Linked DNA regions of Homo sapiens: regions 1 and 3 are each linked to region 2. The links come from fine-mapping of genetic effects on gene expression. A gene starts in region 2. Each other region holds a variant in brackets. All regions are shown on one strand. Distances are between the middles of the regions. Region 1 has its middle 39 kb from the start of ARL5A. Region 2 holds the start of NEB (nebulin). Region 3 overlaps ARL5A (ARF like GTPase 5A).

The links. PIP is the estimated chance that this variant, and not a neighbour inherited with it, causes the effect.
Region 1: its variant is fine-mapped to the expression of NEB in whole blood (TOPMed, PIP above 0.99). The same link has a PIP of 0.9 or more in tibial nerve.
Region 3: its variant is fine-mapped to the expression of NEB in whole blood (TOPMed, PIP 0.96).

Annotation. Positions count from the first base shown.
Region 1 is chr2:151,786,213-151,793,211 of GRCh38, forward strand. No RefSeq gene overlaps it. Among named protein-coding and RNA genes, the nearest start is that of ARL5A, 39 kb to the right of the region's middle. The variant T/A (reference allele first, on the strand shown) is at 3,534.
Region 2 is chr2:151,730,994-151,737,992 of GRCh38, forward strand. NEB (nebulin) reads right to left here and starts at 3,483. Exons shown (of 182, transcript NM_001164508.2): 1 at 3,405-3,483; 2 at 2,719-2,802; 3 at 2,128-2,192. The coding sequence starts at 2,163.
Region 3 is chr2:151,819,624-151,826,622 of GRCh38, forward strand. The region is part of intron 1 of ARL5A (ARF like GTPase 5A); the gene reads right to left. Among named protein-coding and RNA genes, the nearest start is that of ARL5A, 5.3 kb to the right of the region's middle. RefSeq lists an enhancer at 4,200-4,259. The variant CT/C (reference allele first, on the strand shown) is at 3,099.

The DNA of each region.
Region 1 (6,999 bases), 55 kb after region 2:
CTTGCGTTTCCATTGAGCCAAGGAGGGTAGGAACTCTTGACTGCTTTCAGGCCACTGGGGCTCCTGCATTTATATGCTTGACAGTCTTACACTGCGAGGAAACAGACAACTAACAAATGCCTCTGAAACTCATTTCTTATATGTCTGAAATGAAACGAGCAACGTAGGTTTAAATTCCAGACACCCAAATAATTTTTTTACCCCAAAAGATCTATCTCCAAGGAACTTCTCCAAAAAGTAAAGTAAAATTTTTAACAGTGTCACCTTTTTCTGAATTCCCAATATGGGCTATGCAAGCTGGTATAGCTACACTTTGAAGAAACAAATATATTGAAAAGAAAAAAAAGCACAAGGTTTCCTTTGACTTTAATGAGTAGACTTTCAGCTCATTTCCTTTAAAATGCTGCCCCTGAATTGCAAATTACTTCATGGTCTTTATTTAGTGAGCTCTCTTCCTAGACTGACAGAGCCAGCTGCAGAATTGTACTGTCTATGGAAATAATATCATCAGCACTTTGTCGCTGAATAAGACCACAATCATTACATTTGGCTTCTTTTCACACAGGAGGAACTGAATATATGCTTGTTTACAGCAACAATATTCAGAAAGTTATCACTTTTGTACTCTATCAGTTGGTAACTTAAAATCAAAGGAAAATTTAGCATGAAATACCTGAATCCCTTTTTAAGGTCATTTTAATTTTAGTACATTACTAATACTTAAACTATTAGCTTTTTTTCTAGGATTCAAAGAGCATATTAATTAATTTTGATATTCAGTCAGAGTAGAAAGTATTAAGAAATCAATTTATATTCATTATACATATTTATATTTCTTATCTTTTTCTGTTCCAACTTAGAAATAAAATTTTTGAGAACCACATTCACTGTGAAAAATGTTGTATAAATTTATGTGACATATTTTATTCAAGTGAAGTTCTTATCTAGCAAATATTAGAAAAGTAGCCCATTAAACTATAAATAATTTTAATTTGGCTCTCACCAAGTATGAAAATAAGCAAGTAATTTTATAATTTGAAAAAAGATTTTACATTTTCTTTACAAAATAACCACCACTCTCTCTGACACTATTTAATAAAAGCTTTATTAAAATGAAGCCAAAACATTAACACCATTTATATGTACAAGACCATTAAACATTTTTTCTATCTTTAATAAATGTTCTTCCATTTTTGTCATTTATTACTTTCCTAATTTGAAAAATTGATTAATGTGAAGAAACATTACTAAATTAAACAAATGTAAAGTTTAAATTTAATTATTAAATGGTTGAGTTTAAAGTTGACAGCTAGTTTAAGGTAGAAGACCTTCATAATCCAATTACTTTTACTTGGTTTCAGAACTACCCCTAGGCAAATTCTCCTAAAATAGAAACTACATGCAAGAAAAACACAAGCGATGTTCATCATTTAAGATAAACTTTAAAAGTTAAATTTTTAAAATTAATTTTAATAAAAATTGGTTTGTTACCAGTTAGCTATATAACCTAGAGCCAATCAATCTCTGTGTGTTTTCTCTTTTGTTAAATGTAGAACTTAATTCTTGCTCTATATACCTCTCAGGATTGTGAGAATAAAGATGATACATGTCAAATCAACTTGGAAATTATGGCACTATTGTAGAGGTGGCAAGAAATGGGAAATACTTTAGCAGACATATTGGACTAAGTTCCCAGCCAAGAACCAAATAATTTAAAAAATATTTAAGTGCAAAGAAACCACTAAGGCAACATGTAACCTCCTTTTACTAACAAATAGATGTAGTAATAAGACAAATCCAGGCATATAGTACTTACATCACTTTATGATAATACATGCTAAGGAAAAGTAAAATTGGCCAAACCCTGAAAGTTTCTGTTCTGTATATGTATGGACACCCCCAATGCATGCCATGCTGGTAGTGGGGATATGGAGCTGAATGGGATCGAGTCACTGCCCTCCAGAGGCTTGCAGTCTGGAACGACCTGCTGAAAATAGACAAAAATCCCGCACTATGGCAACAGAGAAAGACGTGCTGAACCGTCTTCCAGATCAGGCCAGGCCTCCCAGGCTGATGGGAGAGCTCAGTCTTCAAGGATATGTCAAAGATTGCTATGTGAGAAAAGGAAGGAAAAGGCATTCTAGGTGGAAGGAACAGGCTAGATCAAGGCATGAGACAGAAAGAATAGATGTTTAGAATACATTTAATTATAATAACCAGTATTCAATATTTTAGAAATTGTTAAAAAGACAATCAGCAAAACCACTATTTATTGAGGTTCCAAAATATATTGGGCTTGTGTTAAGGGCTCTGATACATACTTAGTTAAAAATATAATGAAACTAAGGTCCAGGGATGTTACTTAGCTTGCTGATAATGTTGTGGGCATATTAATAGGGTGTCTTTTTTTCACAGTATCAGGCTGATGATTTTTCTTGGCACCATATCCTACTTACAGTTAGCTTTCTAAGAAAAAGATCAGGTAAAGTTAAAACATTTTTAAAGTTCTCCAGTTTGATTCTTATCTGTAGGCACATCTTTGTAATAAACGTAAAATAGCAGCATTCTTTACATGGCATAAGGTAGTTACAATTCCTTCCAAAGGAATAAGAACTAGGAAATTCCTGGGAATAGTCATTATAGGTCAATTTGACTCAACCAATTGTCTACTGTTTCTGAAGAACTTTTAAAAAGCTTTATTGCTAATCATTCTTCCCTGCCACTTGCCTTCTTACCTCAAATGTAAAAACTGAGTAACAAAAACTTTAAGGCAAAGCTCTTATTTTACAATATCATTTCAGGATTAAAAACAACAACATGAATTGAGTCACAACTATGTGCTTGGATCATAGAACTAGTTTACTTTCTTAATTGAATTAACATAACAGCATCATTTTAAGATTTGTGTAACTAGAGCAGGGTATGGTGGTGCAGGCCTGTAGTCCCAGCTATTCAGGAGGCTCAGGCAGGAGGATCACTTGTACTGAGGAGTTGAAGTCCAGCCTGGGCAACACAGTCAGACCTTGTCTCTAAAACTAAAATAAATAAATAAATAAATAAATAAATAAATAAATAAATAAATAAATATGTGTGTACCTGAGGCAAAGAACAGGCAGAAATACTGATGATCATTCTGCCAAGTTGGCAAAGAAGCCTTGCCCTTTTTTTTTCTATTAGCAGTACTTAATGTTCACTACATTCATTCATTCACGAGTTATTTTTTATATAAAGGTCATTAATGACATTAAATTGCCTATTATAATGGCCCAATGTAAACATCAGCAGTTTGTCAGCAAGAAAAGCTTCATTATTCACAAATGCTGGTCAAGTCTTGCTACTAATTCATTTGATGACAGAATGACCAACTGCCCCTTAAGCTGACAACCCTTCCCCTCCACTGCTATCACTGCAAAAACACATTGTCCCCTATCTGAACATGATAACCGAGTGTCGTTTCTGGGTAACACTGAGGTGATTCAAAACACACTTCATAATTAACAATGTGAATTATTTCACATCATCCCATCTCTTTA[T/A]CATACCGTCATTCTTCCAGGCAGCAAGCTCCAACTGCTCTGTGCCTCCTTCCTCTCTTTCTCCTCATATCTAGTTACCACAACTCCTCTTCTGCCCAGACCAGTCCTGCAGGAATGTTTTTCTTCTTCTTATCCCCCTTTTTCATGAATTAAAAAAAAAATTATTTTTAGTTGACAAATTGTATGTATTTATGGGGTATAATGTGGTATTTTGATATGCTGGAGTAATTATTAATAGTGCCTTCTTTGACTCTTAAGCATGTCCCATTTTGGCTGATAACTTATATGGTTACTTACCCATATTCCATTAGATATCAAGTTTATCTTTGCCTTCTCTGCCTTGTTTCAGGCCTTCATTTTCTTTCACCAGGGATAATATAATAATCTATTTATGATGTTATCCCCAGTTTCCTCTCTTTTCAACCCATCTTTTAGAAGTTGCCACAATAACTTTCATTTTAAGAGGCTGGCCTTAAACTGTTATTCCCAGGCCAGGTGCAGTGACTCATGCCTGTAATCCCAGCACTTTCGGAGGCCCAGGTGAGAGGATCATTTGAGTCTAAGAGTTTGAGACCATCTTGGGCAACATAGCAAGACCACATCTCTAAGAAAAAAAAAAAAAAATTAGCCAGGCGTGGTGGTATGTGCCTGTAGTCCCAGCTACTTGGGAGGCTGAGGTGTGATGATCACTTGAGCCCAGAAGGTCAAGGATGCAAAGAGCCATGATCATGCTACTGCACTCCAGCCTGGGAAACACAGCAAGATCCTGTCTTAAAACAAAATAAAACAAGCAAACCTTCAGTGGTTCCCCAATGCCTACTACTACTGCCACCTCACTTTAGTCTATAAGGACTGTTGACTCTTGCTATCACTGTCTCTCTTCATATAGCCTCCAGTACACCTGATGTGAACTATTCACTTTACATTTGGAGTGGGTTTTTGTTTGTCTGTTTGTTTGTTTGTTTGAGATAGTCTCATGGTCCCCTGGGCTGGAATGCAGTGTTGCATGTTGCAATCATGGCTCACTGTAGCCTCAACCTCCCAAGATCAAGTGATCTTCCCACCTCAGCCTCCCAAGTAGCTGAGACAACAGGCACATGCCACCATGCCTATTTTTTTTGTTTGTTTTTTGTAGAGATGCGGGTCTCACTATGTTGCCCAGGCTGGTCTCAAACTCTTGGGCTCAGGTTCTCCTCCTGCCTGGGCCTCCCAAAGTGCTGACATTACAGGTGTGAGCCACCACACCCAGCCCCTTTGGGTGTTTTTAAATATAACTTTGGCATTTATAACAAATGCAACCACATGTTAGATCTTATTAGAAGTACTAAACTTTTAGGACACCAGATCAGGTTGAAGAGTATTTTGAGTACAGCAGTTAAACCATTTAAAAAGACCATTACCATTTACAACTAATTCTCTGCGGGCATTTGATGTCATTACTACACAGCCAAAAAGAACCTATCCCACAAACCAACCAACCACCAAACCATCTAAAGCAAAACACATAATATCAAGGCATAAGCTAAAAAGGTAATCTCTTTACATCTGCAATAATTGGTAAGAACTCTGTCAAAATCAGACTTGCACTGAAGGTTGCAAATGGCATTGCATCAGTGAATTTTTACCAATCACCTTTTGTTGTTGTTGTTGTTGTTGTTTTTTAATTTCAACTTTTATTTTAATTTCAGGGGATTTATGTGCAGGTTGTTACCTGAGTGTATTGCATGAAGCTGAGGTATGGGGCATAAATGATCCCATCACCGAGGCACTGAGCATAGTACAATAAAGCTTTTCAACCTTTGGCCCCCTTTCCCTTACCCCTCTAATAGTCCCCAATATTGCTGCCATCTTTATGTTCATGAGTACCCAATGTTTAGCTCCCACTTATAAGTCAGAACATGTGGTATTTGGTTTTCTGTTTCTATGTTAATTCGCTTAGGATAACAACCTCCAGCCACATTGCAAAGGATATTATTTTGTTCCTTTTTATGGCTGCATAGTATTCCACTTACCAATCATCTTGATCTCTGAACTGAGAGCTTCATCCCATTTACTTAATACAACTTTTGTATTCCTTCCCATCCCTATTAGATGATTCTTTAAAGACAAAATGATTCAGCAATGTTTTCTGATTATTGGTATAATGCGCTCAATATAGAATATCTGTAACATACAAAATCGTAATCAGAAAAATACTGGTTGTAATGTTGCCGCCTACAACTCCTAATGTTATAATACATTTCTTTCTTCTTTTTTTTTTTTTTAAAGACATAGTCTCACTCTGACACCTAGGCTGGAGTGCAAACACAGCTCGCCGCAGCCTTGAACTCCTGGGCTCAAGTGATGCTCTCACCTTAGCCTCCTGAGCAGCTGGGACTATAAGGTACCTGTCACCATGTCTGGCTAGATTTAAAAAACATTTTGTAGAGACAGGGTTTCGCCATGTTGCCCAGGCTGATCTTGAGTTCCTGGGCTCAAGCAGTCCTCCGGCCTCAGCTTCCCAAGGTACTTTCCTATCTTTTTTCTATGTTTTTTGTTCTCGCATAATTCAGATGATAGATGTAAAAGTTTATATTATAAAAAAATTGTTTATCCTGTTTAACATGTCACAACCATTAATAATTTCCTCATATTATTTAAATCTGTTAAAATATTTAATGGTAGCATGTTTTATCATATAACTCAACTGTTTTTAATATGATGGACATAAATGGATGGACACTGGGTGACTTTTCTGAATGAACACAGGACTTCCTACACAGGACTGGCATTTAGGGCTGACAGCATAGATGGACACATTGGTGGGAGAGCATCCTAGAAGCAGAAGACTGGCCGTCTATGGTAGATAATAAAAGTTGTTCATTATTCTTCCCCAACATTAAAAAAAGGTCAGCTGAGAGATTGTATACATCTTTTACCTTCTACCCTTCCCAAAAGGAGTCAATGATTAGCATAGGCTGAATACATTATAAGCCGGTTAACAAGTAAACTGCACAATAAAGGCTAAAGATCACAGAAACCTTGTGGGCGGAGGGAAGCTTTGCACTGCCCACTGCTGGAAGGACTGGTGAACATGTAGCATGACCTGAAGATGCCCAGAGTGGTGGTGGCCTGTGACAGTAGTCAACAGGTTTACAAATCTTAATATAAAGTGTCTTAATATAGAGATGGCCGTGTATATGCTGAAGAATTGACCAGGATGTGGGGAATCTTTTCGGAAGACAATTAGGCAACAGGCTACCAAAGCCTTTTAAAAGGCCATATGCTTTGACACAGCGATTGGACTTGTGAGAATTCATTCTATGAAAAATAAATCCAAATGTTAACTACAGTAAAATTACTGCAATGGTAAGAAATAAGGAACAACAATGTACATCAACATTAGACTGGTTAAATAAATTATGTCATGTCCAAACAGCAAACACAATATATCCATTAAAATGTTTTATATGTAAATGATGTTTAC
Region 2 (6,999 bases):
AGAAATATCATTTGGACACTAGAAAATATTGTTTGATGCTGACGCCACATAGAGTCATTCCTCCAGTCACACAAAACATCAGTGGCTTCAGAAGAAATATTAAAATAAAATGGAAGATTCACAACTATTTTGGATTTTCTCAGCATCCAAGTTTAAAAGCAGCTCCTTGGAAACCATTCAATTTTACCTTTGCTGGGCTCTCACCATTGGTAAATCCATCTTAGAAATACGCTTATAAAAGAGGCAACATTATTTAAATGGTTGGCATTAACTTGTATGCCAAATCTCACTCTTTTTTTAGAGCTGTGCCACTAATTAGATAGTGCATCCTTGCTTCTCTCTCTTTCTTTTCAAGTTTAAGTTAGAGTAGAGAGAACAGTAAAACTTTATTTCAGATGTCCAAGATCCCAAGGAGATATATTTTTAAAGCCAGTTCTTCTCTGTTTTCTGCATATTTTTAAAGCTAGTTCCTCTCTGTTTTCTAAAATCTTCCCTGGCCATTTTTTCGAATGCACCACCCTCTTATGCTCATGATCTTTTTTGAGGTCAAAGAGATCTCAGTTCAATACTTTCTGGCAGGCAGTCTATTCGTTTATCACCTGCTGGTCAGACACAGATGCTGTAATGGGAACAAAATGGTAGGGATGGGATGTCTAAAAATAGCCACCTCCTTTTTTATGACATCTAGTTGAATCAATCAAGTCTAGCACTAAGGACAATTTCCAGTGGCAAAGGTACACAATTATTTTAAGAAAGACAAGGGATATTTAAGTTGGAGAGTAAAAACTGTTACTGGCATTATTATCATAGGGAAGACAATTTAATTTATAATTGTATTAGTGTTTGACAGTGATATTTCTGACCCTTAGGTACATAAGTAAAATGCACACTAGTGATAATATCAGCATGAAAGATGTGGTATCAGCATTTAAGCCAGAGAGGCTGAGTGTTACATTGTACGAGATTCATTCTATTTTTTCCCTCATATCCTTCAGTAATAAAAGCTATTTTATTTGTAGAATAAATAAAATTTTCTTCATCTAAATATAGACTGGTCACTAAAATAATTTTCCAAAGAGAAATTTTGGCACTGCCACCTAAAATTTGGTTCTGGGTAGCTCTTACAGTTAATTTCAGTCTTATTAAAAAGCACAGATTTTCAAAACTGCCTCCAAGTGCCTTAGGCATTTGGAGATTTTCATGTGTTTAGATCATCATCATTAATTGGTAATTATTAAGCACATTCAGATTCATGGCACTGTATTTATGTGCATTATAGTTCCAAGCCTTTAGATTTTATTTCTAGAATGTGAAGCTAAAGGCAAGAGCCGGTGAGGAAAAACCGTAAGATGATAAAAACAAAAGGATGTAAAATAAATATAAAATAAATGATTAACAGCTTTGTAAAATGTGTTAGATGTCCACTAATAATTGGAAGGAAAATTTTCAAGATACCCACTATAGTCTTTGTTCTTATTCAAAATTCAAAAGCAAAAGCTAGTCTTGTTGACTTGGGTAAATATAATGAAGTTGGTAGGAAGGTGTGGCTCCAACAATCGCTGTGACCTTCATGCCTTTATTTATATTTGCTTGTATGTGTGTGTCTGTGCACATGTGTATGTATTATGTATAAAGTCTCACATCTGCATATAATTTCATACATATGATTATTCTGAATATCTAACCCATGTTACCCTATAGATGATTAGCTAGTTGAAGCAAAGAATAAGGAGTAGATCTTTTCTTCTATTGCTATACAGATACTAAGAGACAGAGTTCCATTTTCAGAACTTTCTCTTCGTCTCTGTCCCTTTGAACATCGGGGTTGGGAAGTGGGGAAGAAAGCAGTTTTAGAAGACGAATTAAAACCTGCCTTTACTCCAACTTGGTTTTTTGAGAGCTTAAAGAAAAGCAAAAGTGGGAAACAGTGATATTTCCTGTCAATTCTAAATCCCACATAATTATAGTGAAACTGAACATAAAATATTCCTTTCTTATGCTTTAAATGATGACTCTTTGTGAAGTTATAATAGACAATGTATTTTTCGAATGATTAATTCACCTACACAGCTTTGATTGTCACTACATAAAATAGTTTGCTGTCAGTGTTTTTTTTTTAAATCTTACCTCCACCACCTCCTCATAGTCTTCGTCATCTGCCATTTTTCCAGAGTAGTAGTGGCACCTACAAACTTTTCATATTCCATACAAATGAAAACATATTAGAGTCTATTCCCAGCACAGAAATTATCTTATGACATTATAAAAATAGAATTTGAAGCTAAACTATTGTACAAATTCATATATTGTTGCAGGCTAAAGGAGAGAAGACATTTAAAATACAAGTATAAACAGCAGAAGCTTCAAATTTCTTTCTCTTTATTCCTTCAGTGTTGGGAATTGCTACTTCTACATAATCAGTTTAGTTAAAATTGTAAAACGAAATTGAGGTAAGGAAGTGAGAGAGTTTGGACTCAGGGAACAGAGAATTTAAACTTCCAAACACTTAGAGAAAAGACATTTTCCAGCAAAAATTTTAGTGAAAGGTCAGCTTGGGTTTCAGAAGAAGCTGAAATTTATCCCCCAGCACCAAAATTCTAAGAGGGCTGACTTAGTTTTCCATACTGCCCTGATCCACTGTTTGCAATATATCTTAGGCTTCAAATTGGAACCCATAAAAATACATCTGTCAATAAATTTTAAAAGAAAAAAAGAAACCTCAAGGCAATGGGGTTATTTTCTTCCCGAACACCATTGGCTTATACAGACTTTTTCTTTCGTTTCTGTAGCTCTCGTTCAAACCTGAAAAATAACAAAGTTGTAAAGCATTGATTGAGGTACATATAGGATTGTCAGTCCTTAGCCTAAGCTTCTAATGCAGAAAACAGCGAAAGGATCTCTCAAGGCCTCTACAGTTTGACGCCAGAGAGTAAGACTCTTGATATGAAGTGGATGATGAGTTGGAACAGCTGTCCCTTCATCCAAAGATGTTTGCCATGTAAACCAATACCCTGCAGTGGCTGGTTTTGTTAAGCTAGCGAAACTGCCACTCCTCAGGCAAATGAAGCCCAGTAGAACAGGATAAATATAGGAACGTAGAGCAGCGTATCTTCTTTTTCACACTAATATATTTAGAGAAAAATATCAAAGGCAAAAAAATGTTAGACAAGAGAGCCAATTCAGTCAAGCAATAAATTGGTTAGCAAAGGACTTGACTCTAATCACACACGGTACATAGCAGATATTAGTAGGGCCTTAGTAGGGCAATGGGGTTAAACTCTCCTAGCCATATTTCTACCACTAATTTCCTCAGTTATGGCCCAAACCTTTGAAAAATACTTCGAGGGAAGTTGTGGAGCATCTCCTGAAAGAGTATTACAGAAAAAGTCATAAACTGGCCTTACCTTCAATCTACCAAATAAATTTCCTCAGCAGCAAAGCCTCTCCCAACTCTCCCCTCCTGAGAACCCCAGGCAAAAGCCAGCGTGATGCCTGGGCTCCGAATTATCATGTGGCAAGAGCAACCAATCAGATCTTGAGTTGCTCAAATTTCAGAAGCTAAATTTACCAAGTGATCTTCTGAAAACCACCTGTTCATCAATTCCACTAAAGGATAAAGGGTAACAAATTGCTTGCTTAGAACAATTCAAATGGAATCAAATTTTACCTAACTTCCAGCCTGTGCAGTTCAATTTTAGGTTGAATTTCCCATTTACTGAGGCCCCATTCAATGTCATATTCATGCAAAAGAATTTAGTAGAAAATAAGCATGACTTTGAGAGGCTTTAACCCTTCCGTGACTGCTTTCTTCATGTCATTTGTCCAGTCATGGTGGTAAATGTACTCACTCTGGTAAGGTTCACCAGGTGAGCTACAGGTAAGTTACTGGTGCTAGTGTGAAAGAAACTGAGGAATAAGACCCAGTAAACATCAAGTTGACAAAAGCAATTTTTAAAAATGTGATGAGTGAAGTTAAAGGTGAAAATATTTGACAATGGCACTAAATAAGATATCCACAGGGTGTAATTAGAAAGATTAGACCCCATCATTTTTCTGTTACTAAACCAAGAGGGTATACCAAAATCCTATTTAGCACCTTCTCCCTCCTTAGATAAGGCAAGCTGCTAGGAATACAGAACCTCTCTCATATGTAACCGAGTTAGTGATTTTTCTATTAACTCAGATGACTCCTGGCTCCCAGAAGCAACGTGTGAATGCGGACACAAACAGGCTCAATTTCTGAACAGCAAGAGCAGATAACATGGAAATCAGTAACTTATCAGGAGAAAATAATGCCCTATTTGGCAAATCCGAACGTAAGACATTTCCTTCATAAAAATTATCTAACCATTTTCTTAAAACTTGCCTGATGTCTTTCTTGCACTTTCTTTGCTCCTGAAGTATTTTTTCTAATTTAAAATCTAATTCTATCTGTCTGTCTGTCTGTCCTTACACACAGCGACAGAAATCACAGGCTCTTATGTGACAGAGAACTGCTCTTTCTCTGGGTTGCTCCTGTATTCAGGCAAAACCCTGTGAGTCACCTATATCTTGATATGGATTTGAGATTAAACATATTGTAATATTTTTTCTTTTTTAAGTTAAACATTAGAAAGTAATCTCGCTGGGCGTGGTGGCTCACGCCTGTAATCCCAACACTTTGGGAGGCCGAGGCGGGCAGATTGTCTGAGGCCAGGAGTTTGAGAAAGTAATCTCATATTTCAAATACATGTACCTTTTCCCCCTCCATGATTCACATGGTAGTAAATAAAATCTAACAGAATTTTATCATCTTAACTGATTATACCTGTTCATCTTGTATGTTCTCACAGGTCTTATGACCAAAGGATATTTATGTAATATGAGATCACTCACTTGGTAGCTGCAAACTAGAATTGTGACTTACTAGTCATTACATGCTTTAAAATGTGTTGTTGAATTAAAAAATAATACAGGCCCATACTTTAAAAACATAGAGTACAAAATTATATAAAGTAAAAAATGAGCATTGACCTTCTTAGTCATTTTTAAGTTTCAGATATTTTCAATATAGATATTGACATAAATCGATATACTTAATATGCAATAGACATTTTTATGAAACATCACATAAACATATCCTACTCTAATTTCCACAAATAATTCTATTGATTGGATAGAGTATAATAGTTTAATCATTATTAATGGACATCTAGGTTGTTTCGAGGTTTTTGCTATTACAAAATAAAGCAAAACAATGCGAAACAAAACACACAGTAAGCATCCCTGTACATTACCTTTGTATACTTATATGAAATGTATCTGTAAGGTAAATTTCTAGAAATAGAAATACTGAGGCAGAAGATATATGCACATTTTGAAAATTGATAGATATTGTCAAGTTGCCAGTCAAAATCCTTACACTATTTTATGTTTCACTAACAGAGAATGAGGGTTCCTATGTATACACATCTCAATATCCTTAGGGATTATTAGACTGAAAAATCATTACTATCTGAGCTGAATGTGTCCCCCCAAAATTTATATGTTGAAGTCCTACCCCCCGATGTGTGGAAAGTGATTGGGTCATAAGGGTGGAGCCCTCACGAATGGGATTAGTACACTTATGAAAGAGGCCCCAGAGAGCTGCCTGGCACTCTCTCTGCCATGTGAAGTTACAGGGGGATGATGGCCAGCCACAACCTGAAAGAAAGTCCTCACTAGAACCCAACCATGCCAGCACCCTGATCTTAGACATCCAGCCTCTAGAACTATGAGAAGTAAATTTCTGTTTATAAGCCATCCAGCTTATATTATTTCTGTTATAGCAGACCAAATGGACTAAGACACTCTTTATACATTACTTTTGAAACCACTATGATAGTAAATAGAAGTGCTACAGATGAGCAGAACCTCAAACTCCATTCATAATGAAGTGTGCATCTAAAAAGTTAGGGTGGGGGGTGGGGCAAGAGTGAGTTCACATGAAATTACCCTGGCTTAGATCTCTTGGGATAAATTCCTCCTAAAAGAAAGCCCCAAAGCCCCTGCTAAACTGGCCTGCTGCAGGTTGCCCTAATAATTTGCAAAGCCATCAGAAGTAAGAGACTCACAGGAGAGCTGGTTATATTCCTACCATGGTTACACAGGGGTGAGTGAACCAGCAAGCAGCTTATATTTACCTCCTAGTCACACTAGAGAAAAACACTGCCACCTCCTTACTAAATTCTGCAGATTCTAATCTGGAATGATGCCCTCTAGAGATGAAAGAACAGCTTTATTTTCCTGGCCTATCTATGACCTCTTCTGTGGAACGACAGTACATTGGCACCCTGATTTATTGGTAGGTTCTTATTATATGCCTTGCACATGGTAAGTGTTCAGTAAATGTTAGCTATTATTATTTTTACTATTATCATTTTTTACATTATATTGGAAGCTTCACGCTTTATTCTGTATTTAACTGAAATACCAAATATCTTGAAGCTTCTAAAATCAGACAATAGTTAGTCTAAGAATTTATGAGTACGCAGGCATCTGACTAGAAGCTTGTACAACTGGCTACAAACCAAAGCAGGGCAGTTAGGTGCCAATATCGGAACTTCAGATAAGGCTTCCCTAAATATGAAAATATAGAAGTGTCATGCCTGGAGACCAAAAAAGACATGATAAGGGGAGATGGGATTGTAACAGTTTTTGTTGTCATTACTTTGATTTCAGTATTTTGATCAACCTCTATATGAACATAGCTTAAGAATCAAGCTTAAGTTTCATAAGACTTGCTACTAAATCAACATTTCCTGTTTCCTCTATTCCTTTTTCCCCTCCCTGGAGACATCACTTGGACTCATTTAGCTGAATCTTTTGTTATATTCCTTTACACATTTAACAAAATGTCTACATTGCTCCTTCCTGATTTTTCATTCATAGGCATCATTTATTAAGCTCCTATCCGGGAAGATGAGGCTTTAATTCTCTTTCATCTAAACCACAAGCCTCACCTCCTGCACCTCAATAAAG
Region 3 (6,999 bases), 89 kb after region 2:
ACAGGTATTTTTTTAAGTGGTCTCCTTACTTCAGCCATGTCCTTAGGACTTGGTTACTATGTCCTAATTCCAAACCTGGTGCTTTTCTAACAGTTCTGTTAGGAAAAACTAGCTAGGCAAAAACTACTGAAAAAAAAAAAAAGACTCTTAGGCCAGGCATGGTGGCTCACACCTGTAATCCCAGCACTTTGGGAGGCCGAGGCAGGTGGATCACAAAGTCAGGAGTTCAAGACCAGCCTGGCCAAGATGGTGAAACCCCATCTCTACTAAAAATACAAAAAAATTAGCCTGGCATGGTGGCGTGAGCCTATAGTCCCAGCTACTTGGGAGGCTAAGGTAGACGAATTGCTTGAACCTGGGAGGCAGAGGTAAAATTCTTTATCATACCTGGCCACTAGCTGAACATGATCACCAAGGTAAAACTGCTGTGAACAAAACCATGTGCTATAACACACAGACAAGTCTAAGATAAAGCAGATGGCAGAAATTACTCATTCCAGGATTTCATCTTATAACACAACTTAGTTGCCTACTGAGGAAAGGAAAAGGTTAACAGTTTCAAGATGCATCATCTTTTACAACCACTGTATGGAATGAACTAGAGTATCAATAAGCTGAAATTAGATAACCTATCCTGTGGTGGATTAGGATTTAAACTGCTTTAAATCTTTCTTTAACAGTGCCTAGAAATAAAGAAGGCACACTGGAGAGAGAAGGTATAGTAGATGATACAGGGTAGGAATCCACATGTCTGGGCCAGGCACAGTGGCTCACGCCTGTAATCCCAGCACTTTGGGGGGCTGAGGCGGGTGGATCACTTGAGGTCAGGAGTCCAAAACCAGCTTGGCCAACATGGCGAAACCCCGTCTCTACTAAAAATTCAAAAATTAGCTGGGTGTGGTGGCACACACTTGTGGTCCCAGCTACTTGGGAGGCTGAGGCATGAGAATCAGTTGAACCTGGGAGTCAGAGGTTGCAGTGAGCCAAGATTGTGTCACTGCACTCCAGCCTGGGCGACAGAGTGAGATCCTGTCTCCAAAAAAAAAAAAAAAAAAAAAAAAACAGAATCCATATGTCTGGCATGGTGGAAAATGTTAATAGAGAAAAGCGTGTCGGAGACAGTGATAAGAAAGAAATGAAGTGGCTAGCCATGGAATTTGGGCCGGGAAAGAAATCCAGTCCTGCCCTACAAGGTTAAGAATGTCCGGAAGTCCTAGCAGGTGAAAGGTTAGGTTATTGTTAGGGTAGAAGGAAAGATGAAAGGTAAAATGGCTATGAACAAGAGGAGAGAAATTAGCCAAGGTCTGAAGCTTTGGAGGACCCATAACCTTCTGTCTGCACCTGAAAGTGAATAACTAAATCCAGGTAAGATCATTAGATAAACATGATGAAAAAGGATGAGTGTGACAAAGCTAGCTAAGCCTTAGCCCAAATCTTCCCCTAACTCTTCTTGACCTACGTACTAAAACTTAGAAAAGCTGCTCTACTCAGTCTCTAGAACATGTCATAAACTTTCCAATCATTTAACTTTGCTCATGCCATTCTCCACACTACAATCTTACTCTTCTGCCTACCTATTTTACAAATTCAATGAATTCCTATATACTTACAAATGCATAAATATGCAACCATGCCCCCAAACTCTTAAGACCTAAGCAGATTTCTAAAGTCAATCAAGGGAAACCAAACTAATATATTTGAACATATCATATTCTTACCAAATGGTTAAAATACTTCAAAAACAAAAAGGAGGAAAGAAACTCCAATCAAACATAAGCAGAACCTGGAAAATATCCAAAAAAACCACATGTAGTCATGTGGTCTGAGATCTCTGGAGGGCCATTCCAATGAAGAATCCATGATCCAGAGGATCTTTACCTCCTTACTCCACCCAAACACCTACAAACTACATTCATTACAAAGTTCTAGTTGCTTCCTCCCAAGACGTAGCTCTATTTGAGTTTTTTTGTATTTTCACAATAAAGCACCAATGACTTTTTTGAGACGCAGTCTCGCTGTTGCCCAGGCTAGAGTGCAGTGGTGTGAGCTTGGCTCAATGAAACCTCTACCTCCCAGGTTCAAACGATTCTCCTCCTGCCTCAGCCTCTCAAGCAGCTGGGACTACAGGCAGGCACTACCATGCCCGGCTTTCTTTTTTTTTTTTTCTTTTTTTTTTTTTTTTTTGAGACGGAGTCTCGCCGTATGCCCAGCTAATTTTTTAATTTATTTATATTTATTTATTTAGAGATGGAGTCTCGCCCTGTCGCCCAGGCTGGAGTGCAATGGCATGATCTCGGCTCACTGCAACCTCTGCCTCCCAGGTTCAAGGGATTCTCCTGCCTCAGCCTCCCGAGTAGCTGGAACTACAGGTGCGCACCACCACGCCCAGCTAATTTTTGTATTTTTAGTAGAGACAGGATTTCACCATATTGGCCAGGCTGGTCTTGAACTCCTGACCTCATGATCCACCTGCCTCGGCCTGCCAAAGTGCTGGGATTACAGGTGTGAACCACCTGCACGTGAATCATCAGAAGTTTACTGTGCCTGGCCTAATTTTTGTATTTTTAGTAGAGATAGGGGTTTTGCCATGTTGGCCAAGCTGGTCTTGAACTCCTGACCTCAGGTGATCCATCTGCCTTGGCCTCCCAAAGTGCTGGGATTACAGGCATGAGCCACTGCGTCCCGGCCACCAATGACCATTTTTAATAGCTTCCTAAATCTAAGACATAGCATGTGGGTCACAATGAGAACTATAAAATTAAGACCAAACTGTGCAATGGGCTCAAAGACAAACGTGTCATCTCAATAATAGGGTCAGATTAGTCACAAAGTTTTTAATAGTAGATCAATTTCCTCTGAACATCCTTACTCTCACCACCACAGCCTGTTCCTTTCATTAGCAAGATGGAAAAGCATCTATACAAAATGTAAATTTGTAGCCAAAAAGTGCTATAATGCACTTCGAAATAAAGACTTCATAGAATCCCAATATGCCTACTACAAGAATGTTATTGTGGACAAATGCAATAAAACTTTCAGCCATTCCAACTCTTTGATGCACAAGAATCATCAGAAGTTTACTGCTTAGTATGATTTTT[CT/C]TTTAGACTATGTCACAGCATTCCTGTATTTACTCAAATAAGCCACAACAACTGCACTGTTCTAATGCTTTGATGGAACTGTGAGTTACCAATTAGGCTTTAACATACCAATCAATACTTTACTGTTTTGTCATGAAAATTGCTTCTTGTTTCCCTTTTCCTTCATTTCCTTTTGACACAGGCAGTCTACCAGTTCCATTCATTGCCAGTTTTTAAAAGTTAATATATATTCCCCCAACTCATCAGTCAATAAATTAAGCATAATAATAATTGTTATTGTAGAGAATTACTATCTCTGTGAATCATACAACATCAGAAAACACAAAAACACCAGGGCAAATAAATGGAGAGTCCTCTTGATTCATCATTTTTACCTCATATCTGAACTATCACTAAGCCCTATTAATTCTATGTCTCTCAGAGCAAAAAATTCCATTTGTCATATTCACTATAGTTCTCTTAGTCCATAGGACAGCTCCTGGAATAAAGCATGAGCTTAATATTTTTCATGAATAAATAAATCAGATCTGGAAAATATAAAGGTTAGGAGAGAGATATCTGCTTAAGTCGTTTTGTATTAAAAGTTCAATTTTTAAAACTTAAAAGTCTTAACAATAAAAAGAAAGTTTGAAAATAAACTTGCTATTACAGTAATGGTAAATTAAGTTTCAGGGGAATAACCAAATTTTCTTTTGCACTATGAGGTTGCTGAAAAAAAAAAGCAATGATTACACATGGCAAAATTAGAGATCCAATCAGGAGGCAGAAATCACACAATAATTTGAACTTGGAAAGTTCAACATCAAAAAAATATTACAGGGGACTGGAGTAATGAGAGATTGGCTAAAAGATTATGGGAATGTCAAATTTAAGAAGCACTCACTATCCCTAGGGTTGAGATAAAGGTCCTCCCCCTCCCTCCAGACTTAAGATGCAGATCTCGTTGGAGGGCACAGATAGTGGCTCACTGAATGGCAGAGAAGTAGCTGTGGTGAGGTGCCAGTGGAACCTGCCCAAAAATCCTCCCTCTTCGGTGCTGAGGAAAACTGTTTATTGAGAGGTATTTCACTGGAGACCTTCCATTATGAAACCAACTAAGACGGGTACTAGGGGAAGCTGTTGGCTGCTGCTGACCACTATGCAGTACAAGAGCCAGGCCTTGGAGACGGTGTTCATGCTACAAGCAGAGCCCGTCAAGAAAGCACACTATAACTAAGTACAAACACCCTTTCCTCCTACAATGCCTCTCCAGTGCAGCCTACTGACAAAACTTAACATTTTGCCCAGTGGCAAAAGAAAAACGTTTAAAGGACCTAGCTCCACTTCCACAGAGCATGCAAAAAGGGTTTACAAATGGTCTCTGACTTGTGATGTTGTAAAAGCAACACACATTCAGTAGAAACCATACTTCGAGTACCCATGCAAAGATTCTGTTTTTCACTTTCAGTACAGTATTCAATAAATTACACGAGATATTCAACCTTTATTATAAAATAGGCTTTGGGTTAGATTTTGCCAACCTGTAAACTAACATAAATGTTCTGAGCACGTATAAAGCAAGCTAGGCTAAAGCCATGGTTTTCAGTAAGTCTGGCATATTAAACTCATTTTTTACTTACTGTATTTTCAATTATCTATCTATCACAAATTATCAACTATCACAAATTGAGGAGCATCTGTATTAGAAGCTAAGACACAGTCTACCCCTTGGCTACTCAGCTTCCATATGTACTCTTCTCTACACATTTAAACTCCCTAATAATAATAATAATAATAATAATAACAACAATAATAAGCCAGAAACAGAGGTGGCTTCCTCAGCATCAGGTTCCTGAAGCACAGGCAGCTTCTCCTGCACCCATTCATACTTATAATTCCTTTTCTAGCAACCAACCAAGAGAGCAATACAAGGCTATTAATGAGGAAATTCCACAACTTCTTTTATAGTTCACATCAGTCAGTTCTTTTTATCTGAGTCCTTCTTATACAAAGTCCTTCTTACACGAAGTTGTGTGCAAATGTGCGTGCGTGCATGTGTGTGTAGAACTAACTCTGGCACTAGATAATCTTGTTAAAATCCAGGTGTGTGTGCGTAGGAGAAATAACTCCGGCACTACGTAATCGTGGTTAAAATCCAGGTCTATCACTTTTACCTATAGTGCTTAAAGCAAGTTACCTGTTTCCGTACCCCTGTAAAATAAGGGGAATAATATCTACCTTGTAGGGTTGTTGTAAAGAGTAAATCAACTAAGTGAATATTAAATCAAACAACCTGTGTGAACCTTGCACAAGTGTTAACCACTATTATTTTACTTGTAGAGACAAAGTGAGTTAATTTCCTGTCTCCCAACACTACATGAAAGCTCCATAAAGGCAGTGGAATTTGTCTGTTTTGTTCCCTTATCCCACCATGTAGAACACTTCCTGGACTAAATAGGTGTTAAAATATTTGTTTATTGAGAACAAGTAAACCACTGATCACAAGCTCTTCTATAAAAAAAAGTTACTAATGGCAACTTTTCGAAGTTCTAAAGACAACTTAGAGATTAGCAACTGAAAAAGTTAATGGGGGGAGGAGGAGGGAGGGAAAAATGATGTCAATCTCTTCTTTAAGAGATTCCTTCAGGGTTTTAACTTGCCTGGCTCTGGCATATACCAGTTGCATGGCCTGGGGAAAAAAAATCATTCCACTTAAGCCTCAGTTTTCCCTTTTCAGGGGAAATAACTACTTCAAAAGATTGTTAAAACATAAAATAAAATAAAATAAAATGATTTAAATGACAGCATCTAGGATAAAGTTTGTACTCTACTGAATCTCAGTATCAACTAAATGTGACCTCTGGTTTTTCTAGTTCGAGCGGTATACAAATAGCTTTCACTGTGCACTCAATCTGAGCTTTAACTGAAAAAGCTGTTCTCGAGGGGTTTCAGAAACAGGAGATACTGCATAGTTTAAGTTTCATCAGATGGCAAATTCTGTAATCTCCCGAAACATACTTTCCAAGAGTTTCTATGAAAAGAAAGTAAGATTGCATTCTGAATCCACTGAAGGTAAAACAAGAGCATCCAACACATATCTAACTTATATATGTCCTATACAGAAAAAAAAAAAAACAACCCTGCTGGGCACCATGGCTCAGGCCTGTAATCCCAGCACTTTGGGAGCCCAAGGCGGGTGGATCACGAAGTCAAGAGATGGTGACCATTCTGGCCAACGTGGTGAAACCCCATCTCTACAAAAAATACAAAAATTAGCTGGGTGTGGTGGCACGCACCTGTAGTCCAGCCACTCGGGAGGCTGAGGCAGGAGAATCGCTTGAACCCAGGAGGCACAGGTTGCAGTGGGCCAAGATCACACCACTGCACTCCAGCCTGGTGACAGAGCAAGACTCCATCTCAAAAAAACAAAAACAAAAACAAAACCCAACAAATATCTGGCATTAGATTAAATGGTGGATATTCGGAAAAGTGACCCTATTGATAAGACAGCCACACTGTTTAGCAGAAAATAAATAATTTATTCACACTTTCACAATATTCATATCTAATTTTCTAGAACTTAACTTCATTAATTTCTCTATTAATTTCCGCCAAACTGCCATAAATGTCCCGTCAAAAATTACCACAAAATACAGGTTATAAAAACACTACTATTAGCAATTTGTAGTGATACCAGAGCACACACCCTTATTATTTACTACTCCAAGGAGCTGTTGGCAAAGTTCTCATTTATTCTTAACTTACAGAAACAAATAATTTTATCATTGACTCAAAATAGAAAGTGGTGATAACTCTTTTTCTGGCAGCACTAGAGCTCAATTCACAGTCTTGCTAAACCTCACAGCAGATGAAACACTAGCTTTGCTAAAAATAATACAAAATGATGGATGTTAAAACTAG